Linked DNA regions of Homo sapiens: all the other regions are linked to region 4. The links come from fine-mapping of genetic effects on gene expression. A gene starts in region 4. Each other region holds a variant in brackets. All regions are shown on one strand. Distances are from middle to middle.

Evidence for each region.
Region 1: its variant is fine-mapped to the expression of ATP10D in whole blood (INTERVAL, PIP above 0.99). The same link has a PIP of 0.9 or more in neutrophils.
Region 2: its variant is fine-mapped to the expression of ATP10D in whole blood (TOPMed, PIP 0.95).
Region 3: its variant is fine-mapped to the expression of ATP10D in whole blood (TOPMed, PIP above 0.99).
Region 5: its variant is fine-mapped to the expression of ATP10D in lung (TOPMed, PIP above 0.99). The same link has a PIP of 0.9 or more in blood mononuclear cells, fibroblasts, monocytes, nasal epithelium and whole blood.

The regions. Positions count from the first base shown.
Region 1 is chr4:47,409,087-47,414,086 of GRCh38, forward strand. The region is part of intron 8 of GABRB1 (gamma-aminobutyric acid type A receptor subunit beta1); the gene reads left to right. Among named protein-coding and RNA genes, the nearest start is that of COMMD8, 52 kb to the right of the region's middle. The variant G/A (reference allele first, on the strand shown) is at 2,419.
Region 2 is chr4:47,559,767-47,564,902 of GRCh38, forward strand. It overlaps ATP10D (ATPase phospholipid transporting 10D (putative)), which reads left to right. Exons shown (of 23, transcript NM_020453.4): 14 at 1,183-1,309; 15 at 3,815-3,999. Among named protein-coding and RNA genes, the nearest start is that of ATP10D, 77 kb to the left of the region's middle. The variant C/T (reference allele first, on the strand shown) is at 2,585.
Region 3 is chr4:47,445,947-47,451,082 of GRCh38, forward strand. COMMD8 (COMM domain containing 8) reads right to left here. Exons shown (of 5, transcript NM_017845.5): 5 at 4,841-5,136. Among named protein-coding and RNA genes, the nearest start is that of COMMD8, 15 kb to the right of the region's middle. The variant T/G (reference allele first, on the strand shown) is at 2,032.
Region 4 is chr4:47,483,287-47,488,422 of GRCh38, forward strand. It overlaps ATP10D (ATPase phospholipid transporting 10D (putative)), which reads left to right and starts at 1,989. Exons shown (of 23, transcript NM_020453.4): 1 at 1,989-2,233. RefSeq lists enhancers at 1,826-2,120, 2,092-2,161.
Region 5 is chr4:47,539,939-47,545,074 of GRCh38, forward strand. The region is part of intron 9 of ATP10D (ATPase phospholipid transporting 10D (putative)); the gene reads left to right. Among named protein-coding and RNA genes, the nearest start is that of ATP10D, 57 kb to the left of the region's middle. The variant A/G (reference allele first, on the strand shown) is at 3,173.

The DNA.
Region 1 (5,000 bases), 74 kb before region 4:
GGAGCATGCAGACGGGCAGGTGTGGGAGCCGGGGCAAGCACTTTTGGGCTCTGGCCCCATGGTAGCATCTAGAGTTGGGTGCCTGCGACTCCCGAAGCCCCAGTAGGTGTGTTACAGTGCTCCTTTAGCTCTGCCATCTGCAGACAGCTTAAGTGTTAACCAGCTCAGTGCCTTTTTGGTACCCAGGTTCTTGTCTGGAGTCCAGGAAGAATCAGGTCACATGGACAAGTTGAAGGATGGTAAATGTGGAGGATCTTATTGCTGGATGGAGGTGGCTCTCAGTGAGATGAATGGGGAGCTGGAAAGAGGCTGGAGTGGGAAGATAATCTTCCCCAGGAGTTTGGCCATCCCGCGGCCATCTCTCCGACCATCTCCAGCCAAACTTCTCTCGACATTCAGACACTCCTTCTCTTCTCTCCTTCTCTATTATGCCACTCTTCTGCTCCTCTGCTCCTCTGCTCTTCTGCTCATGGAGCCCAGGATTCGGGGTTTATATGGGTACAGTATGGGGGGCATGGTGGGCCAAAAGGCAATATTTGACACTAAAACAGAAATGCCTGTTCCCATTTAGAGCTGTGGGGTTCCATGCTTGAGGGTGGGGCCTTTGCCGGGGAACTACCCCCTTCTTTCCAGTATTTTCCTGTCTCCTGTCCATATCAAAATGAAACATCAGGCAAACTGGAATCAATTTATTCAGATAAAATAAAAAGACTACAAAACAAACTTTAAGCAAACACTTTCAGCTTTTGATTCCACACTAGGATATCAGAGAAATTTTTTAAGATGATAAAGATTGAATAAAGGCAGGAGGAAAGCCTATGTCATGTCAGATCTAGATGTATAAGTCCTGCAGAGGACTTCATGACTGGCTAATAAATAAGTAAAATGTTCCCATTTGACTGACCTTTATTTCATAAACAGGCTGTTTGAGTAACATTGGGCTTAAATGTGGTAAGAATTCATTGTCTCTCGAATCAGTAAACTTTTATTCCTGGTAAATTGACTTTTTAAATTTTGAATTAAAGGAGAACGAATAAAGAAATTCCTCAACTGTCAGAAGACAATGCTTAAAGGAGATTTTTTTAAAATATGTTTTTATCCATGGAAAGTTAGACTACGAACTCCACAAATGATTTCCACAGAAAAATAGACATAATTCTGACAAAATTCAAAAACAAATCATATTAAAACAGGGCAGAGTACTTTGTATCAGAGTAATCCTCCTATTGATAGAAATAATAAACTGTGAGCACATTTTTAGAAATCTGCTTTAAGACATGGGAGAGTAACAAAACAAGCAAAAACTAAAAGAGAATCAACTTTCAAAAGGAAGGAACCACACTGTGTGAAATCCATGTTTATGCAGCTTTTCCCCTGAAGCCATGTCCCAGACTGAGGGATGTGGGGCAGCAAAACTTCAGCAGAAACTGAAGTTGTATTGACCTGAAGAGTCAGATCATGGAGTTTGATTGTTCCAGAGTTCCTGGAAATTTTAGAAGTGAGCCACAACAGAAACTCGACACCTGAGTGTAAACTTCCCCAGCTTGATCCCTGAGCTACAAATGTACAAATGTACAAATACCAAGGAGCACAGAAAGAAAAAATAGCTAGAAGCTGGGGGAAAGAAAAATGAACAGAGATTTTAGTTACTGTCCACTATATAAAAGTCAGAGTTTGGAGTTTGAATCCAGCCTGTTGGGGAGTGTGGGGGTGGTAAGCACATTAGGTTTTCCATAAAAATCTCAAGAGGCTTATACCTTAAGGGTAAAGATAAGTCACAAGAATAAGGGATTCCCCTTGGGTTAAGGGAAAATCTAAAATAGGCTCACCCTAATGACACATAAAACCAAGTCTCCACATATTCTGGATGATATGTTAGTCATATAACTGCCTACCAAACCAAACTCAACATTCTTTGGGGAAGATAGCAGAATTTAGAGTCTCTATGGTGCATCATTCAAAATATCCAATATATAGTAAAAAATTACTAGACATAAGAAGAAACAGGAAGATGTGACCATCATCAAGAGAAAAACATTTGTCAACAGAAACAGAGCAGTAAAAGTCTCAAATATTGGCCTAAAAGATAATTAGTATAAATAACTATAATTAGTGTATTTTAAAGTTCATAAGAAATAGCCCAAAACTGGAAACAGCCAAAATATCCTACAATAGATGAATGGTTAAACAAACTGTGGTATATACACACTATGGAGTACTATTCCAGTAAAAAAGAAATGAACTGTTGATACATGCAAAAACTTGGATGTCTCTCAAGGGCATTAGGTTGAGTGAAAAAAAACAGTATTAAAAGGTTATAATACTGTATTATTCCATTGATATAATACTCTTGAAATAACAAAATTATAGAGATGGAGAACAGATTAGTGGTTGCCGGGAGTCAGTGATAGTGAGGAA[G/A]GATGTGGGATGGGTATGACTGATTATAAAGAACTAGTGTGAGGGAGATCATTGCAGTAATGGAATAGTTCTGTAACTTAATTGGAATGCTTGTTACATGAATCTACATATGCAATAAAATTACACAGAACTATACACACTTTATGTCAATGTCACTTTCCTGACTTTGATATTATATCATAGTTATGTAAGATGTAATCAGTTGGAGAACCTGGGTGAGGGGTACATGGGGCCCCTCTGTGCTATCTTCACAACTTTCTGGGAATCTGTAATAGTTTCCAAATAAAAAGTTTAAGAGAAAGTCAGTAGGAAAAATTGATATAGTGTATAAAGAAATGGGGAGTTTCAGAAGATAGTTGAAACTATAAAAGTGGAACAATGGAAATCATAGAATTAAAATTTTTATTAGATGAATTAACATCACATTGTATACAACAGAAAAAAATGATTAGCGAAATTGAAGGTCATATTGGGCTTCTCTCAATTTCTCAATTGTAGCAGTTCTTACCATAAATGCTACTACTTTGGGGTTGCCTTAATAGACACTCTCACTCTTGATTTATTATTTGGTATCGCTGTTAATTGTTCTTATGGGATCCTGTGCTTTTCCACAATAAGACTTCCATGATAGTGAGTATATGTTTATTTGTATAATTATCTTTTAACATCTGTTTCTCCTTTTAAGCTACAGCTTCCCAATTATACACCCCAGAGCCCTTGTCTTTTACATTCATTGTTCTTTCCTCAGTAGCTAAAATGTAGATAACAAATAAGTACTTGTTGAATGAATGAATTAATTAATTAATACTGGAGAGTTGTTCTCCATTTTAGATGTTTTTAGAAATCACGCATTCAGTGTTACACTATGTTTTATAAAACTCGTACATATTCATAATAAGTAAGAAAAAGAGACTATACTCCACTTCAGCTTCTGCTCCAGACTGTCTTACTGTTCCTATCATTTTTATTTTCAAAAAAAAATTTAAACATGCTTTATATCAACCTCTGGTATTCTTTTTGAATCACTGTGCCATATAGCATTACATGTAATCTTTAAAGGAGCATTATGGCTAAGATTTTGAAATGGCACTGTTCGTCTGGGAGTAACGCCCAAGGTTCATTGTCTCAACGCCAAGGAAATCAAGGATGCGGTCACATAAGGAGTGAGGTTAAGAGCAGAGGTTTAATAGGAGAAAGAAAGAGAAATGCTCTCTCCTGCAGAGAGAGGGGTCCCAAGCAGGTCTTCTGGTCTGTGGTGAAATGCAATGGGTTTTACAGCTGAATAAGAGGAGGTAGTGTCTAATTTACATAGGGCATGAAAGATTGGTCAGACCAGGTCTTCCATTTGCATAAGGCTCAAAAAACTGGTTAAGGCTAGATGTGCCATTTGCATAGCATGTGAAAAAGCTGGCCACCCCACTCTAATTTTTTATTATGCAAGTTGGTTCTCTACCTGGCTGGCGCCATGTTGCCTGCTTCTCTGTACTGTACTCGGGTGAAAAAGGAAAGGGAAGATGGAGCCTTCATGTTGAACATACCTGGCTTCCAGGTAGCCCTTTTCTACTGGCACAGCTGCCAGCATTCACCGTGAAAGCTTCCAACTTGCTTATCTATGTCTACAGCTTGATTTTTCAGACTGCTCTTTGTTAGAAAAGAAATGATTTGGGGGCTGCTTTTTGTTAAAACAGAAATTCCGCCGAGGTCTCTGTTGCCCTTACTATCTGTCTAAATAATTTATTTCTATCTCCTGTATCAATTTTATAAACTTCTTCATATTTAGGTGGGATAATAATACAGCATTACCATCTCATGCAAGTTATAATCATCCCTGCACCTGCTTAGGTTTGGTAGTTCCTAACTTTCTTATCCTCTTCTAAAACCAAAAGTCCAGACAGATAATATGTCAATAACAAAGCAAGTATTTACTTCATCTATTCAGTGTGTCATTTCAGCAGTTACATTAATAATGCAAACTGTGTGGTATTTTAAATTGCTACCTGCTAGTTAAACTCAAAAATATAAAAAAGACTATTAATTTTTTTAAATATAATGGTTGGATGATCCTCTACTTTTAGATGCTTGTAAACAGTTAAATTTAAATGACATCTGTGCCCTGGTCCCAGACAATTTTCATTTGAGGGATTTCCTCAGTATTTGCCTTGGTTCACTGGAGCATAGAGTGGCCTTGTTCAGTTGTTACACATTACTTTTGATCGCTCTGGCTGGGCAGTCAGGTCAAGGGGTATTTGTACTGAAGCTTCAGGAGTGCTTGCTTTGTCTTGATTTATATTTCCTCCAGCTGCTCTGAAGCATCTTTTTATTTCAGTGCAGATGCTAGATCCAGACATTCGGAGAGTTTCAACCTCTAAGGTGATAAAGACTGTAGATTCATAAGCCCCTCAGGCATCATTTGAAAATAGAGATGGTATTTAGAGTTTTGAAAGATAGATTTCACAGTACAACGAGGCTTTAAGTAAGCTACCTCTGGGCCACTTTTATACGCATCTGGAACTTTTTCAGTTATATATTCTGGCCACAATCCCTTTCCATTTGCAAATAAATGAAATGGCTGAAATGGTAGC
Region 2 (5,136 bases), 76 kb after region 4:
AGGCAGGTGGATCACCTGAGGTCAGGAGTTCAAGATCAGCCTGGCTAACATGGTGAAACCCCGTCTCTACTAAAAACACAAAAATTAGCCGGATCTGGTGGTGCATGCCTGTAATCCCAGCTACTCAGGAGGCTGAGACAGGAGAATTGCTTGAACCTGGGAGGCAGAGGTTGCAGTGAACTGAGATTGCGCCACTGCACTCCAGCCTGGACGACAGAGCAAAACTCCATCTCAAAACAAAAACAAAACCAAAAACAAAAAGCCTGCCCCACACACAGTTAAAGGAAGAATGGAGAGTTCAAGATCAAACCAACTCTGCCTTTTCAATTGAATGATCCTACCCTTGATTAAAATGTAGCCCAACAGGTGTCAGATTCTCTCAAATCGAATGACCTGTGGCCAAGAATAAGTAGGCAGAGAGGGGAATTGCCTCACCTGCTTTACTCCACTCTGCTTTATAAAAACTGAAATGTAGATTTCTCTTTCTATGGCAACCTAAAGACAAAGGAAAATATATTATTGATCACTTCCCCAGGAATTTCATTCAATTTTTCTTTGGAATAAGACTTGTTTCACCCATAGGGCCCTTCTCTTTTTACCATTCATTAACCACATAAAATAACCATCAAAGGAGAATGGCGTGAACCTGGGAGGCGGAGCTTGTAGTGAGCCGAGATCAGGCCACTGCACTCCAGCCTGGGCCAGAGCGAGACTCTGTCTCAAAAACAAAAACAAAACAAAACAAACAAACAAAAAAAACATCAAAAGGTATGAAAGGTGCTGCTGGTTACAGAATCCTTCGAACTAAACAGTCCTGATACCACTTTCTCAACTGCACCATTAGAATCAAACTGGATTTAACTGTCAATTGGAGACCACTCCCAACTGCATACTTTCTGATTTAATTAAAGACATTAACCCACTGTCATCATATATGGTGCCTAGAATTTCCAGAGATGCTGAGTTAAAGGGTCATCCATCATCAGTGTTGCACTAGTCTGACCACAGAGTTTGGGAAGCTAGTGTCCAGGTGGTGTGAGGATATGGATCTGACATGGCTGTGCCCAGAGGGAGGAATATGTAAAACAAGTTGATGGTTTGATATTTTGCCAGAGGTCAGTCCTGGTATTCCCACAAGATCATATGGCTTGCTTCATACCTCTCTTTTAATTCTTCCCGTAGGTCATGAGTGACACTGAATATGCAGAGTGGCTGAGGAATCATTTTTTAGCTGAAACCAGCATTGACAACAGGGAAGAATTACTACTTGAATCTGCCATGAGGTTGGAGAACAAACTTACATTACTTGGTAGGTGAATTATGTTTGTATTGCCTGAATGGAGGATTTTGAAAAACACTGGATATCTTTGAATAAGGGTTATTTTCTTCCATTGTTATCTAATAAACATATATGGTTCTGCCTACCCTGTCCAGTCTGATCTCTATCCAACTTCCAATCCATTCTATTCTGTTGTCCACTGCAGTGAACTAGACTTCACTTGTGATGGGGTCAGGATGGTCACCCCAAGAAGATCATGTAAAATCCAACACTTAACATAGACTACAAAGCCAAGTAAATGTTCCAATAAATATCTTGGTTCAAATCAAGATAAATATCAAGAATAGAGTTTCTTGTCAGGCATTGGATAAGGTGCTTAATACGTGTTATCTTTTTTTTGAATTCTCACAACAAATCTCTATCTTATGTAGAGGAAATTTGGGGCACAGAGCAGTTCAATGACTTGTTCAAGGTCACATGCCAGTAGCTGACAGTTACTCATTAACCAAACATGGAGCTCATGTTTGCCTGGCTCCAAGCTTTTTATCCTGCACCTGCTACTGGACTAAGGAAATTTATTTTTCTTCTCTTCCTGATTTCAACTAAAATTGCACAACTGACCCCTCTTGTCTTGGATTAAACTGCATCTTAGAATTATCTGAAGCACTTTAAAAAATATTGATGCCTGCATCCTATCCCCTGAGATTCTGATTCAAGTGATCTGTTGTGTGGCTTGGGCATTGGAATTTTTTAAAGCTCCCTAAAGTGATGCTAAAGGCGGTCAAGTTTGAGAACCACTGTCTTAGAGTCTGGAGATCTAGATTCTAATATAAGCTCTGATATACCAAGATACCAGCTTCTGAGCTCCATTCCTCTATTTAGGAGGAAAACATTGACCTAACTTAGTATCTAGCAAATAGAGCAATGATGCCTACCCTAAGTGATTTCTCTGTGACAGTGTAAGTAGTATAGGTCCACATTTCCTCATCTGTGATTCCAAAATCAAAAATGCTCCATGGGTTTAGTGCCAAAACTCATTTGGCAGAAAAATCATACCTGATTTGATATAAGACTATTTATAGTTATTATCCTAATTTAGGTGAACATTTGTCAGTTTTCCTGCAGAAATATTAATATGCTTGATTAACAAGTATTATAGAATATGGTATATGCACCATATTACTTTTTTAATATCTGAAAAATGTTTGAATTCCAAAACACATATGGCCCCAATTGTTTCAGAAAAGGGAACTGTAGACCCATGAAAGAACACTGCAAATAGACATTGTATCTTACTGGCAGGAG[C/T]ATTCTTTAAAAGCCTGCCCTTTAAAGGACATGAACAGACATTTTTCTAAAGAAGACAACAACAAGTGGCCAACAAACATGAAAAAATGCTCAACATCACTAGTTATCAGATGCAGACAAATGCAAATTAAAACCACAATGAGATACCATCTTACACCAGTCAGAATGTCTGTTAAAACGTCAGAAGACAACAGATGTTGGCAAGGATGCAGAGAAAAGGGAACGCTTATATACTGCTGGTTGGAATGTAAATTAGTACAACCTCTATGGAAAACAGTGTGGAGATTCTCAAAGAACTGAAAATGGAATTACCGTTCAATCCAACAATCCCACTACTGGGTATCTACCCAAAGGAAAAGAAATCATTATATCAAAAAAGTACCTGCAATCATAGGCTTATCACAGCACTGTTCACAATAGCAAAGTCACAGAATCAGATTTCTAAGTGTCCACCAACAAACGATTAAAGAAAATGTGATATAATATATATATATACACACACACACACATATATACACAATGGAATCCCACTCAGCCATAAAAAAGAATGAAATTGTGTCTTTTGCAGCAACATGGATGAAACTGGATGCCATTATCTTAAGTGAAATAACCCAGAAACAGAAAGTCAAGTACCACACGTTCTCACTTATAAGTGAGAGCTAAATAACATGTACACATGGACATGGAAAATGAAATAGTAGACATTGGAGACTCAGAAAAGTGGGAGGATAGGTCGGGGAGCAAGGGATGAGAAATTACCTAACAGGTACAATTTACACTATTTGCATGATGGTTACACTGAGAGCCCAGATTTCACCCCTACACAATATATCAGTGTAACAAAACTGCGTTTGTGCCCCCTAAGTCTATAATAATAAAAATAAAATCCCACCCTTATCCTTGGGAATATCATAGAATTATAAAATTGTAGTGTAAGGTTGCATAAATAATTGACTCAAATCCCTTCAATTTACAGATAAGAAATCTAGCCAAAAGGAGAACGAGTAAGTTTGATAAATCCATTGATCCCTGAGGCTTCCTTCCCAAAATATTACATTGCATATAATTTTGGTCTGGGTCGTCAAACCTCCTTTGACTCTCCTGAGCAGCTGGGCAGTTTATGTAGTGTAGGGTTGAGTTGGCTAACAGATATGATTCAACTGTAGACTAGCTGAGCTTCAGCTGGCTTTGGTTTCTTACAAGTCCTATTGCACTTTGGTTATTTTTTAGGTGCTACTGGCATTGAAGACCGTCTGCAGGAGGGAGTCCCTGAATCTATAGAAGCTCTTCACAAAGCGGGCATCAAGATCTGGATGCTGACAGGGGACAAGCAGGAGACAGCTGTCAACATAGCTTATGCATGCAAACTACTGGAGCCAGATGACAAGCTTTTTATCCTCAATACCCAAAGTAAAGTGCGTATATTGAGATTAAATCTGTTCTTCTGTATTTTCAAAGGCATTGGAACATTTGAGATTTGATGTATGCAAGGATTAAAAAAAAAACAAAACAGCAACCGTTAGCTTTTTTTGTTGTTTGTTTGTTTGTTTTGGTTTTTTTGAGACGGAATCTTGCTCTGTCACCCAGGCTGGAGTGCAGTGGTGCAATATCTTGGCTCACTGCAACCTCCACCTCCCAGATTCAAGCAATTCTGCTTCAGCCTCTCAAGTAGCTGGGATTACAGGCATCTGCCACCACGCCTGGCTAATTTTTGTATTTTTAGTAGAGACGGGGTTTCACCTTGTTGGCCAGGCTGATCTTGAACTCTTGACCTCAAGTGATCCGCCAGCTTTGGCCTCCCAAAGTGCTGGGATTACGGGGTGAGCCACTGTGCCCTGGCCAGCAACCATTAGCTTCTTGATAATTTTTTCTATCCAGAAACCTACCTTGTGCTTGGAAGGATGTCTATTCTTCTAAAGGCCTGATGGAAAATTATAATGATTCAGAGGAATCATTGCTGAATAAAGGCATTAGAAGAAAGTTTTTTTTTTTTATTTGCTTTCCCCCCTCCACACTGGATTACCAGGGATCTGACAGGACTTAGCCCAAAATGAGAAAATATATCAAGTCCTGGTACAGGAATCTACCTCCCTTTTAAGATAAGAAAAAGTGATAGTTTTTATTGAAATCAGGTGAATAAATTATTAAATATTTTATGGCAATTCTAAAAATAGACTCAGGGAAATCGTGCCCTCTTGTGGTAATTCCTAGGTAGTGCTCCCGAGAATATCATAAGTTTGAAGAACTGTTTAAGGGAAGAGGAAAATGTCATTTTTTAAAAAAGAAGGAAATTTAGGAGGCTTAGACTCAGCCCAGTTTTTTCTATTTTTGCCTCCCGCTAATCTCTAACACCAATGTTTAATCAGATAAATAAGGGTTTTATTTTTCTCAGAAGCCTTCCAGTATAGTGATCCCCTCCAAGATTTGTGCACATTGTTTATTTTTCTTGAAAAACTTCCTCCCATTCTTCTTCAGCAGTCAGACTTAACCAGTGATATCAATCCCATCACTGCAGTCTGCCTTCTTTGAAATCTTGTGGAGCTTTTCTTCAG
Region 3 (5,136 bases), 37 kb before region 4:
TATTTGAAAATAGAAAAATTGACAAATCTTTAGCTAGACTAAGAACAAAAGAAAATTCACAATTAAAAAATCAGAAATGAAACAGAGGATACTACTTCTGATGCCACAGAAATAAGAAGGATTACAAGAGACTGCTATGAACCATTATAGGCTAACAACTTAGATAACCTAAGAGAAATAGATAAATTCCTAGAAACACACAACCTACGATGACTGAATCATGAGAAAATAGAATATATGAAGACTTACAACTAGCAAGGAGATTGAATCAGTAATCAAAAATCTCCCAACACAGAAAAGTCAAGGACCAGAGGGTTCCACTGAAAAATTCTACCAAACATTTAAAGAAGAATTAAAATCAATCCTCCTCAAACTCTTCCAAAAAACTGAAGAGGGAACACTTTCAAATTCATTGTATGAGGTCACCATGATCCTGATGCTAAATCCAGACAAAGATATTAACAAAAAAGACCACACGCCGATATCTCTAACAAACATAGGTACAAATATCCTCAACAAAACAATAGCAAGCCAAATTCAACAACACATTAAAAAAAATCATACGCGATGATCAAGTGAAATTTATCCCTGGGATGCAAAGATGGTTCAACATATGAAAATCAATCAATCACATAAACAGAAAGGATAAAAATCACATAATGAATTCAATAGATGCAGAAAAAGCATTTGACAAAAATTAACACCTTTTCATGATAAAAAACACTTTCAACCATTAGAAATAGAGAAAATTATATAAATATAATAAAGGCCACATATGAAAGCCCACAGCTAACATCATACTTAGTGAAAAACTGAAAGCTTTTTCTCTAACACCAGGAAGACAAAGATGTCTACCCTTGCCACTTCTATGCGATACAGTACTGAAAGACCTAGCTAGAGCAATTAGGCAATAAAAAGAAGTCAAAGGCATCCAAATCAGAAAGAAAGAACTAAAATTATCTTTGTTCATTAACGATGCAATCTTATGTGTAGAAAACCTTATTTAAAAAAGCTGTCAGAACCAATAAAAGAATTCAGTAAAGATGCAGAATACAGATTCAGCATACATAAATCAGTTGCATTTCTATATACTAAAAATGAACAAGGCAAAAAAGAAATTAAGAAAATCCCATTTACAATAGCATCAAAAAGAATGAAATATTTAGAAATAAACTTAACCAAGGAGGCAGAAAACTTGTACACTGAAAACTACAAAACATTGCTAAAAGAAATTAAAGAAGACACAAATAAAAGACAGCACTGGTCATGAATTAAAGATTCAATATTTTTGAAATATCCACATGACTCAAAGCAATCTACAGATTCAATGCAATCCCTATAAAATCCCAATGGCATTTTTTACAGAAATAGGAAAAAGCAATCCCCAAACCCCAAAATTCAAAGGAACCACAAAGACCCCTAGTAGACACACACACACACACACACACACACACACACACAAAATCCTGAGAATGAACAAAGCTGGAGGCCTCGTACTTTCTGACAGGGGCCTACAAATGTATGAAAAAAGCTACAAAAATCAAAAACAGCAAAGCAGTAACATAAAAACAGGCATGTAGACTAATGAAATACAATAGAGCACCCAGAAGTACATCCACATGAATATAGTCAACTGATCTTCAACAAGGGTGCCAAGAATACACACTGGGGAAAGGATAGTTTCAACAGGCAGGGTTGTGAAAACTGAGTGTCCACACATAAAATAATGAACCTAACCCTTATCTGACATCACACACAGAAACCTGCTCAAAATGGATTAACTCCTTTCTCATTGTTGGAACTGAAATTTGTAGATAGGGAAGGATAGGAGGCTAGAATAATCCATGTAATGGATTAGAGTTGGAGACATCAATATGAGCTTGTTTAGCTTAATATAGATATGTATGATAATATAAATATAGATATGAGTATATACCCAGGTTGGTATACACATACATATTTCTTAGTTCTGTCAGCACCAAAAGGGCCTAAAAGAAATAACACCTCAGTAGCAATGAGTATACCTAGCTC[T/G]GTTTCTAACACCATTCTTCAATAAAAGGAACCAAGAGTTCCTTGGAGAAATAACTGATTCTAGGATTGGACAGGAAATACACAAGATGAGCCTGGGGCATTTTGCACTGCCAGAGAGTAAGAAAATACTTTCCAAGATGAAAAAGAAAAAGAAGATGCACCCCCCGCCCTGAAAAAAATAAAAAGTCCAACCTCATTGATGGGGATATGTCAAAGGGACACAGGAGCCAAGTGAAAGAGCTCCTAATGGCCAAGCCATTAGAACAGTTTGAGTAACAAAGCAGTACTGAATTATAACCCAAAGTATAAAATGAGTCCATACTGATAATAAGTAGAAATCTCAATAGTGGAAAAGAAACAAATGGGTACAAAATTCCACGACTTATGTAGATATTCCAGCCTCAAAAAGGAGAGCACACCTTCCCACTCCTTAAGTATGGGCTGAACTATGGTGATTTCCTTAAGTACAGTAAGAAAAGGAGAAAATGAAGAGTCAGTTCACAGTGAAGAAACCTGTACCTCAGCCAGGTATCAAGATTAATATCAAGCCATAAATCACGTTAGTAGTATGTACCCTTGATTTGATGTGATGAAAATGGCATTTTATCTCTGTGATCTTCCTTCCCAACACCCATAACCCAAGTCTAATCATGAAGAAAACATCAGACAAATTCCAACAGAGAGAGACATCCCACAAAGTATTTCGCCCACACTCTTCAACACTGTCAAGGTCATCAAAAACATGCCAACTAAATGTAATACGGCATCTAGGATAGAATCCTGGGGCAGGAAAAGGACACTAGGGAAAAACTTAGAAATTTTCTGTTTGAATAGACTCTAGAATTTACTTAACATTGTGTCAATATTAGTTCACTAATTATAACAAATGCACTGTACTAATGTAAAATGTTAATAATATAGAAACTCTGTACTATCTCTTAAAGTTTGGTTTATCTAAAACTGTTCTAAAACAATATAGGGTCAATTTACATGGGGGAAAAAAGATAAGCCACAGATTAGAAGAAAGTATCTGCAAAGTATCTATCTAATAAAGGATTTGTATTCAGAATAAGTCAAAAGAGCTCTCAAACCTCAATACTAGGAAAACAAAAAATCCAATTGAAAAATGGGCAACAGATCTGAGCAGACACTTCACTGAAGATGTATACATGGCAAATATGCACATGAAAAGATGCTTAACATCATTGGTCATTAGGGAAATTTGTTAAATATTGCTAAAACCACTGTGAGACAATACATATTAAAATAACTGAAATTAAAAAGACTGGCAATGCCAAGTGTTGGCAAGATGGAGCTGGAACTCTCATAGACTGCAATGGAAATGCAAAATGTTAAAATCACTTTGAAAAAGCTTGACAGTCATTATTCTAAGCGAAGTAACTCGGGAATGGAAAACCTAAGCTATGAGGATACAAAGGCGTAAGAGTAATATAATGGACATGGTGGACTTGGGGAGGAAGGCTGGGAGGGGCATGAAGGATAAAAGATTACATTTAGGGTACAGTATACTGCTCGGGTGATGGGTGCACTAAAATCTCAGAAATCACCGCTAAATAACTTCTCCGTGCAACCAAAAACCACCTGTACCCTCAAAAATTATTCAAATAAAATTTTTTTTTAATTTCGGTAGTATCTTGAAAAAATAAACCTACCATATCATCCAGCCATTTCATTCTAAAGTACTTGCTCAAAAAAAAGCATATGTTCGTTCAAAGATGTATGCAAGAAAGTTCGCAGCATTCTGTGTATTCTAATGCCTAAAACTTGAACCAACCAAAATATCCATCAATAGGTGAATAAATTGTGGCAGAACTCTACAACATAATACTTCTGAACAATAAAAAGAAATGAACTACGGATACATGCAACATGGATGAAACGCAAAATAATGCTGAAAGAAGCCAGATTAAAAAAAAATTACACACTATATGATTCCTTTATACTAAACTTCCAAAAATGCAACCATCTATAGTGACAGGAAGCAGATCAGTGGTTACTTGTGGGAAATGGAAGGGACAGGGACTATAGAGGACCAAGAGGAAAGCTTCAGGAGTGATCAAATGTTCATTATCCTAATTTGTGGTGATGCTTTCATGGATGTAAATATGTATATGTCAAAATATCACATTGCACACTTTAGTATGCACAGTATTTAGTATACTGATTCAATTTCGATAAAGCTGCTGAATGTGCTAATGGAGTGTTACCAAGTGGTGAGAGAGAGACTAACTATAGCAAGACGTTTTTCTTGTAAAGGAGATACTGCATGGAAAGCTGAAATTTAGAAGAGACTTCACAATGAGTGCTACTCGAAGTGCTGTTCTACAAACCATCACTGGCCCATCATAACAAATAACTTGCACAAGAAGATAAATTAACTACCACACTAAGCACACTATTTCCTTCAGCTGATAATTTTTTTAAAACCAAAATTTCTCGATGAAGACAGCAGTATACTGATACACTTTCTGGCCCAAGCTCCTTATTGAATCACTGACCTGTAACAAACAGTTCACAGACAAGCACTTCTCTGCAGACACATTTTGAGTAGCACTGTTTAGATCACACTCAGAAAACACTCTAAGCCTATCCTCATCTGTATGATGAGAATAGTAATAATTGCTCCGGATGCCTCAAAGAATAGTCTGATGCTCTAATAAGCCATATGGCTTGCAAATAGCAAGCACCTATTAATTATGTATTATTGAGTTACGTATAATTACGTATAACTACTGAGTTATTTGGAGTCATTTAAAATAAAGCAATATATAAAAATAAAACAAGACACTTTTCATTTGCTCAGAATGCTTGTTGTTAAAGTTAACTGAGGTTACAAATGGTTTGTTTTTCCAATGAATTTAACATCCCAAAGTATTCAATATTGAGTTTATTAACAAAAGTGGATGTGTACATAGTCTTATCTCATATTTGAATATACACACTGCATAATGACAGCTATTTTTTATCAGAGCAATGTTTCCCAAACATAGAAGCGCAGAAGTAAAATGTTATTTTCATTTTTCTGTATTCTTGATTTTAGTTTCTAGAATTCATAAACTCAAAACTGTTCACATAAGTTTAGAG
Region 4 (5,136 bases):
AAAAATTACTATATAGATTTAAAGTAGCTAATGTCTTAAATTAAGAATCGTATTTTGTCTTTTTCAAAATAGGAATCACTCTGAGGAGAAAATTGGATATTACAGAAGCATTGCAAAAAGAAAACACCAAACACAACAAAACCTAATAAATTGATAGAAACCCACCTTAATAGTGGTTATTCCAATGACCTTCATGGTATTTATGAGTATTGATTTTTAAAAATTTGATTAGAAATATTTAAATTATCAAAATGATACAAATTTCATTCAAATGACAGACACAAATAGAAAGCTAGTAATCTCCCCTCACTATCCTTCCCTGAGTAAACAATTTTGAGGTGTATCTTCACGTTTTTATATTTATATTAAAATAAACCAATATATAAAGAATATGTATAAGGCTAAGTTGTATTACATAATGTTTTCCATTATTCTACTACTATGCTCTTTAGACTTAAATATAATAGATTTTCTTCTAAGACAATAATTCAAATCTTAGTCAGTGATTCTCAACCCTTGTGCACATTAGAATTTCTAGAGGAGCTTGAAAAAAAGACATTGCCATAGCGCCACCCCCAGAGATTCTGGTTTAATTGGCCTGGGTGGGGCCTTGGCATCAAGCTCCCCGGTTCACTCTGATGTGTAGCTAGTTAGAACCACTGATTTAAGCAATCCAAACAGGCTACATGCCTGAATTGTCCTGGTATGTACGTTCCCAGGAAGGCCCTCTGCTGAGGTAACAACACCAGTGTTTGATTGGGAGAGCTCAGGGGGGCCCAGCTACAGTTTTAAGTCTCCTCTATAAGGTTGACTCTCAGATAGGAAATGTGTTTCATCTTAAAGGATGTTAGAGACAGTCATATGACTGCAAAAAGTGCTACTAGGGCCAGGAATTTCAGAGGCCATGTAAATGACAGTGTATTCTACTAGGCTGGGTTAATTCTGGGGATTAAGTTTGACTAAGTTCTAGAGATTTGTCCTTACCTGCAGATGGAGGCTTCCCTAATGGAGCATCATAGGAAGCCACACCCAGAACTTGTTTCTCCTCGTCTGGCAGAAGCACGTTCTCAGTGGGTGCAGAAACTTGTTTGGCTTCTCTTGGTCTGAGAGAATTTTCAAGCCGACCAACCAGCTCCCTGTGTCTGTACTGGTGAGCTCTTTACTAATAGTCAAACATTTGCATGCTCATTTAGTTTTCTTCACTCTTGTTGCACATCTGAGAAACACTTGAGAGAATGGAAGAGAGAGGCACAATATAGGAGAGCTGTGGAGAGTTTGGCCCCACTTTTTATATTTGTTTCAATGGGATAAAACAGGCAGCCAAGATTATTAGGTTTTGTTCTGAGTTATTGGTTCGGCCTTCACTAAATGGCTTTTCCTCTTTCCAAATTAGACATTTTGAGAAACCAGACAGGTTGTTGAAACTTATTTAGAAGTTTTAAAAAAAGTTGTGAATTTTAAGCAAACGGACCTTGGCAGGTGTATGGACAAAGCCACATTATCCTGAGTAAGGGAACGGAAGGGCAAGGTGTGAGGAAAACGACCAAATCAGAATTGTAATATTTTTCCTCATTTCTTTTCTAGTCATAAAAACAGTAACATTACATATTATTTATTTATTTTGTGGTAGGGTCTCACTCTGTCGCCCAGGCTGGAATGCAGTGGCGCGACATTTTTAGATTTGATCTCTTTTACCCTCCAAAAAATAATTGTCCAGTGTTCCACGTTTAGCTAAAACAGTGAATTGTTAGAATTGCAGCAAAACAATGAACCAAACCGTCAACCGCGAGCAACCTGTACTTGGGAGGTGAAAGTCAGAGGTGAGATTGTAAGGGCTCTGGGTCACTGGGGCATCTGCGCTGGGCAGAAGGGCAGCTCGGTCAAACAGCTGGAGCTGGGAGCCGGTCAGTTGCCAGGCCCTGCCGCTGCTACGTCACGGAGGGCGGGGCGGTGGGCGATTGGCGGTGCACTGCAGCTCGGGCTGCTCTGCAGCCTGGCGGAGACGGGAGGAGGAGCGGAGGGAGAAGTAGGTTGCGAGCTCAGCACAGGCTCCGGCGCTGGCTCCCGCAGCTGAGTTTGGGAGATGTCTAAGTGATTTTTTTTTTTTCCCGGAAGGCAAATGGCTGGCGTGGAAGCACAACCCGCTTTCACTCTTCGAATTTGTGCTTAGCTCTTTTCTTGTACCTTGCGACTCGTGACCAACATGCTGTGATGTGTGCCGAGGGAGGAATTGGTAAGAGTGAGACGGCGAATCCCTCTGACTGTCCCAGCCTTCTGCTTCACCGCCCACCCGCTTTTCCTTTCTGTTTCTCTCTCCTGTTTCTCCCCGCTCCACTTCCCTAGTCGTGTTTAGATTTGATGACATGGCTCAAAACTACAGTTCTGGGCTGTTACTGAACTAAAAAAAAAAAACAACAAAAGATAAAATGATTACACCATTTTCAATCATTTGTTAAAGGGGAATTTAAAAATCTATTTTAAATGCTGGATTTTGTAAAAAGGTAAACTGCACACGCGGGCGCACACGGGCACGTACATACACGCATTCTCACACACCTTTGTACACGCGGGCATACACGGGCACGCACACACACGCATTCACACACACACACACTCCTTTGTCATCCCGTTGTGAAATAAGCAGTTTAAAGAAATTTTGGTTATCTGCCTCAAAGGTGATGAAAAGGGAAGGTGTTGAAGATTTAGCCCAGCAGATTGATTCCTTAAGGTTGATTCCCTAAGGTTGATTCCTTAGGAAGAAAAAGGTGTTTGTATTGGAGCTTTCTCGGAAATAGTTTTCAAAGGAGTGCTACAAAGAAGCCCCCATGCTTCCCCCAAAACACTAACTTTAAAGAACCTAGTTGTTATTCGGGGCACCCTTTATTTTACGTTGTAAAACATGTAGTTTTAATTTACCACGTACAGCAGAGAGACATCAGTTGGTTAGGGAATGGATGGTTATTTTGGTGTCTGGGACCCTGTGCCTTTAGAAAGAATATGTTTTAACTGCTCTTATCATGCTAGCTCAGGTTTTTAAAATGTGATCTGAATAAGACCAAAGTTTCTTCTTGCGTTCTTTTCATGCTGGTTCTAAGCAGGGAGAAAAACAAGTCTGTATGGACAGAGCAAACCTCTAACTCAAAATCAACCTTGAGAGATGCATCAACAAGGACAGGGGCTCCTCATCCACCAATATTTACTTGTATCAGCCTTTAAATCATGTAGGTCACATTTCTGTGAAGAATAGCATCATCGAAAACCCTTGCTGACTTGTGAAGAGCAAAAATCATTGCAACGGAGTAGTTTGTTCAGTGCCCGCAGCAAGAACCTCCCACTCCGATCCACCTCAAAAAGTAATAACTGCTTCTTCTGGACTGTTTTCTATTCTCACTACAAATACGTATCATATACCTACATTGAGATAGTTTATTTTTATTAAAATGAGGTCATTTTATACATTTGGAAAAATAACTTAGCAACATTTTAAAGTTTTAGGGAGTTTAAAAATAACATTTAATTTTCATGCTAATTTAACATTCATTAAATTGCATGAAAAAGAGGGAAAATCTAAGCACTCTAAACTAGGATGTGGGGAGTGTTTGACCCTGGCTTAGCAAAACCTGAATACTTTTCATACTTAGTGACTAAATAGAATTGAATAGGGCCGGGCGCAGTGGCTCATGCCTGTAATCCCAACACTTTGGGAGGCCGAGGCAGGCGGATCACCTGAGGTCAGGAGTTCGAGACCAGCCTGACCAACATGGCGAAACCCGTCTCTACTAAAAATACAAAATTGGCTGGGCGTGGTGGTGCATGCCTGTAATCCCAGCTACTCGGGAGGCTGAGGCAGGAGAATCGCTTGAGCCCGGGAGGCGGAGGTTGCTGTGAGTCGAGATCGGGCCATTGCACTCCAGCCTGGGCAACAAGAGCAAAACTCCGTCCCCCAAAAAAAAAAAAAAAAAAATAGAATCTCATTTATTTTGCTATTGTCAGTAAAACGAAGGGAAATGCTCAAATATGATTATAATTTATAATAGAACAGAGGTGACTCACCTGTCAGACAAATGTACTTCCTATAATTGACTTTTTAAATTAAGGGTTAAAAAAATGTACACATATTCAAGCCTTCATTACATGTTTTCTTTATTGTCTGATATAGTTGGAAGTAGTTCTTCTAATGAAGAAGAATCAAAGAAAATGCTACAAGTAAGATTGTCTGAGAATTCTCACAGAACAATGCACTGATAAATATAAATTTAATAGTGCTTGAAGAAAAGGAGAATTGATTTATCAACTCTAGGAATAAATATATGTGTGCTGGATGCTATCACTATTCCTCGTCAGTTATTCCTTCGATATTTTCTTAGATAAATTTATTTCATTTCAGAAATCATTTTAGCCATAGAAACAATACTTTTTTATCGCTTTGCAGAATAAGGACTAACAGTGATGCTAGTTTTGTAAAAGAGTTGTGGCCTTAATGGAATTTTTTTAATGCTACTCAATAAAAGGTATATCAATACAACTATTTGAGGCAATTACGTGGTATTATGTATTAAAACCTGTGAATGTTGGGCCAGGCACAGTGGCTCATGCTTGTAATCCTAGCACTTTGGGAGGCTGAGGCAGAAAGATCCCTTAAGCTCAAGGGTTCAAGTATCTGCATGGTCCCATTTTGCTCCCATCTCTACAAAAACAAAACAAAACCTGTGAATGTTCATAGCCTTTGACTAAGTGATCTTGGGTCTAAAAATATAGCCTAAGGAAATAATATGAATCGCATATGAAGATTTATAAATGTTTATTACCATCTTATCTGTAATACAAAAAATGGAAACAAAGCCCCAATAACAAAATATTTAAATAAATTAGTGTAGTTTATGTATCTATATTGATAAAACTCAGTTACAAAAGTTTTTTAAAAATTTAATGACTTGGAAATATACTTGCAATGTATTCTGTAAAAAAGTGAAATTTAATATATTATCTTATGTGTAAAATATAATTTTGAAATAAATATATAAAATTCATTTAATCAAAAGTATTTATTAAGCTGTTACTCTAAGACAATGTCCTAAATTAATAAGGATTGAAAAAGATTAATGCAGTTCCTGTTTGCATACAAGTTTCTTTTGC
Region 5 (5,136 bases), 57 kb after region 4:
ACTGGGAATCAAATGCTATCCTGACTGAACTGTAATTGATAAGCTACCTGTTTGGGAACCAAAGTTCTAGAGGTACTAACTTTGCCTTTGACCACTTCTCTACCATAGACACACCTAGAGCTTCTGGTCTTTTTTATGCAGTGGTTTAAAATTAAACACATGTGTATACACACACACACAAACTAGTGGAGACCAGTTCTCTCTAGAAATTAATTCTGAGGCATATTTTCACTGAAGTGAAAACTATTTTAACAGTGTATCTGTGTTTTAATGGCTAGTCCTTTAGGGTTTTCTGCAAAAGTGTTGCCTAGGAGACAATTTGGTGAAGAATATTGCTGCTTGGAAACAACCTCTCACACATGGAATTGCACTAAACACACCTGACAACACCATTGTATATTTTAAAACCTTCTAGCTTCGAAATGTGTTCCATGTACTGGCAGCATCAGCAACACCCGGGCATGCTTTTAAATTGCAGAAACTCAGACCCCTCTTCAGAGCTTCAATTAAATGCATTTTAATAATATCCCCAGGTGATTAATATGCATATTAAAATTTTAACAAGCCACTCCTTTAAAAGACTTTAAAGAGAATGACTTTCTTAAAAATAAACTTTTAAATTTAGGATAATTTTAGATTTACAGAAAAGTTACAAAAATATCCTGGAGGGTTCCAGCATGCCCTCATGCCGTTTCCCCTGCTGTTATCATCTTGCATTAGTCATATGATATATTTGAGATAAGTAATGAACAAATGCTGATACATTATTATTAATTGAAACCCATATTTTATTTGGACTTCCTTCATTTTTACCTAATGTTCTTTCTCTGTCCCAGGATCCTAGCTAGGATGCTGCATAACAGCCATCATTTTGGTTTCTCTAGGTGACAGTTTCTCAGATTTTCTTTCCTTTTGATAAACTTAGCAGTTTTGAGTGGCATTATTCTGGGATTTTGTAGAATGTCCATCAATTTGGGCTTGTCCAGAGTATACATTTATGATGCACAATTTGTGAATCTGATTTACATGGAGGCAGTAGCATTGAACACTTTTCAAGAACAAGGATTTTGGAATCAGGCCTCCTGAGTCTGCATCCCATTTCCACTACCTACAAGCTGTGTGGCCCTTAACAACTATCTAATTTCTCTGTGCCTCAATAAAAAGGATCAATGACACTATCTATCTCATTGGATGGTTAAGAGAATGAGAGAAGATAATTCACATAAAGAATTTAGAACAGCAAATGGCACAAAATGAGTTCTCTATAAATATAGCTGTTGTTACTGTTGTTGTTGTTGTAAATATTGTTAAAATAAGAAATAGGCCTATCTCTTAAGGAGCTCATGGTCCGATGTGGGAGGCAGATATGTAAACATAAATTATCATGTTCATTGTCATAAGATATAAAGTCAGTGTTCTTGTTCCATTTTGTTTTGATTTTCAGGCAGTCAGTATTGGAGGTGGATTTTGCACTGATTAAGGCTTGGGATGTTGAAGCCAAGATACTGGATGTTCTTACGATGCTGGAATTGTATGGGGAATTTGTTTAGAACAAAGGTTTATATATCAAGGATATATGGGTGATACAGTTGGAGGAGGTTTAGCTGAGTGTGTTATTTACAAGCAGGCAAAAGTTGGAATGCTGGAAATGTTTGCAGATTTAGTTCATAGTGAAAGGGTTGATGGAGGATTGATGATACAATTGAAGGAAGCTCATCTGAATGCTGTTCACCTTTGTTTCGGGCCCTTTGGAGAGCACATTGAAAGTATGATAAACTTTTTGTTCTGTAGACTCATGCCCACTTCTTCCATATATCAAATTGATGCAAGTAACAGGCTATAGGAAGATTACTGGGTATTTGAAGAGGGGAATGGGAAGAAAAGACAGATCGGGGATTAAATAATGAAGAGAAATAAAGTAGACAATTTGGTACCTATCTCAATATCTACCTTCAGACAAAGGAAAGAATAGACTTTGTAAGTTTTTTCTTATGAAGCAAAAAGTAAGAATTCCTGCCCTGCTTTGAGGCATTCATGTAACTATTTTGGAGTCTACCTTAAGGTAAGTATTAAGAAATATTAAAGAAATACTAAGAAATATTAAAAGTCATAACGATTTGGATAAGTTTTATCAATATTATAATAAACCTTTGTTTCTCATACAATATATTTTTTTAACACAGGGTCTCACTCTGTTACCCAGGCTGGAGTGCAGTGGCATGATCTCAGCTCACTGCAGCCTCAACCCTCTGGGCTCAAGTGATCCTACCACCTTAGCCTCACAAGTAGTTGGGACTATGGGCACATGCCACCACGCATGGCTAATTTTTGTATTTTTTGTAGAGGCAGGATTTCGCCATGTTTCCCAGGCTGGTCTCGAACTCCTGGGCTCAAGCTATCTGCCAGCCTCGGCCTCCCAAAGTGCTGGGACTACAGGTGTAAGCCACCACACCTGGCTTCACACCTAATTTTTATAAAATTCTCACTGAGCCTGGAATTATAGCTCCAGTAGCTTTGTTTTCTGAATCACATTGTAACTTTACTGGTCTATTTCCTTTTTTGAGAAGGAGTCTAGTCTCGCCAGGTTGCAGTGAAGTGGTGCGATCTTGGCTCACTGCAACCCCTGCCCCTTGGGTTTAAGCAGCTCTCCTGCCTCAGCCTCCCTAGTAGCTGGGATTACAGGTGCCCGCCACCACACCCAGCTAATTTTGTGTATTTTTAGTAGAGATGGGGTTTCGCCATGTTGGCCAGGCTGGTCTCAAACTCCTGACCTCAGGTGATCCACCCACCTCGGCCTCCCAAAGTGCTGGGATTGCAGGCCTGAGCCACCGGGCCTGGCCTATTTCCTTTTCATAGCTTCCACAAAATGATTAAAGGTTGAGTCACTTCATATCTTCTTGATTCCACTTTTGCAATTGTACTGACTGAACAAGTTTTCCCTACAGTAATAGCTGAGCTACCTGGAACTATACTAATTATATAGTTGCATGACGACTGATTTCCCTAATGATGGCTAGGAGTTACACGATCATTAAATATAGCCTCCATGTTTATATGTGTTTTGAAGTACAGTATTACCCCCTTATCTGTGGTTTTACTTTCCACAGTTTCAATTACCTTTGGTATAGTAAAATAAGATATTTTGAGAGAGAAAAAGAGAGATCACATTCAC[A/G]TAAGTTTTACTACAGTATATTGTTATAATTATTCTATTTTATTATTAGTTATTGTTGTTAATCTTTTACTATGCCTAATTTATAAGTTAACATTTATCATAGGTATGTATGTATATGAATAAACATAGTATATTTAGGGTTCAATACTATCCGTGGTTTCAGACATCCACTGGGGGTCTTGGAACATATCCCCTGTGAAAAAGGGGAAACTTCTGTATTTTTAAAATATTTTTTAAATGGTGTTACGTCATCAATAAATTCCTTGAGCTACTCAAGGATTTATCAGTCTCAGCACTATTTGGGCTAGATTAATCTTTGTTGTTGGGGGCTGTCCTGAGCATTGTAAGATGTTTAGAAGTATCCTTGGCCTCCACCCACTGAATGCCAGCAGCACACTTCACCCAGTTATAACAAGCAAAAGTATCTACAGCCATTGCCAAACCCCCAGGGGACAAATTCACCCCATGTGGAGAACCACTGAGCCAACTTATTATATACAAATCACTGCTGAGGAGCTATAATATAGTGGGTAGTGTGCTGGCTTTGGAGGCAGAAGACCTAAATCGAATTTCCAGCTCCACCCACAACTAGCTGTTTAATCATGGTTGAACTGCTTAATCTCTCTGGGTCTTAATCTCCTCAGCTGCAGAGTGGGCAGTGATAGTTTCTACCTGATGGCATTATTTTGAAGATAAAAAGGAAATAGGTATACATATATATTATGTACACACACACACACACATATATATATGCATGAAAAAAGGAGGATCTCAAAAAATATTAACTTCCTACCCCACAACTTTCCCTTAATACTAGGGATATTTCATTGACATGTCTATTGATTCATTCATTTATTATTCATTTAATAAATTTTTATTTAAATGAAAAAACATGGACTCATTGAAATTAAGCAGGGGATATTGGCCATGTGTTAAAAATTGGCCCTGTTAACATATATAGGTAGATTCAGAAACAGTAAAGCATGGGGCTGTGGAGTTTAATAGAACTGATTTTAAGACTAATTTGTACCATTTTTGTGAGATGGGGCAAATTACTTAAGTTTATTTATTTGTAAAATGCTGGTATTAATAGCATCTGCTGAGATATAATGATTAAATGAGGCAAGTGCCTGGTACATAAGCAAATGCCTGGTACATTCTGCACATGTAATCTATAAATTCCCAATGAGTGGTATGAGTAAGAGTCAGTATAGCTACAGAGGTCTTTGTGGAGGAGCTGGCATTTGAACTAAACTTCTAAAGATGTTCAGTATTTATGTAAATAGAAAGGACGCAAATGAATATTTCAAGCAAAGGCATAGATGAAAATGGAGGAGATCAGAATCTCTGGGACACAATATGTAAACCAGTTTTTGAAGCTGGAAGGTCATACTGGGAAACATTCCGTGTTGTTTAGGCAGATTATATGATGAGACTTGCAGAGCTGGGAAAGATCTTAAAGTCACCGAATCCAAATCGTTCATTCTGAAATGTTTCATTCTGAAAACAAAGGCCCAGAAACAGCAAGTGATTTTGCTGAAAGCCACTTAGTCTTTGAAAAAGTTGGTACTGGAACCTAGGATCACCACATAGACCCTTAGCCTCTCCTTGTCCTTAAAGAATACAGACAAAAACTATTACAAAAAAATAGAATGTGCAAACATTCTTCACTTCATAGAATAACTTACCCAAAGCCATACTTTATCCTATAGCTAAATAGAGAAGACTGGCAATCCAACAAGCACCTATTTATCGATGGTCTATATTCCAGACACTGGATACAATGCTGAACAATTCACATAAGGCCCCTGCTCTCATAGAGTTTCTATTAGAGAAAATATTCACAAATATATTACTTTTTTAAATCAAGAAAAAAATTAGCGATAAGTACTTGGTAGAAAATTAAAATAAGGTGGTATAATATAAAATGATTGGATGGCCACTTTGAACTGGAGGGTCAGGCA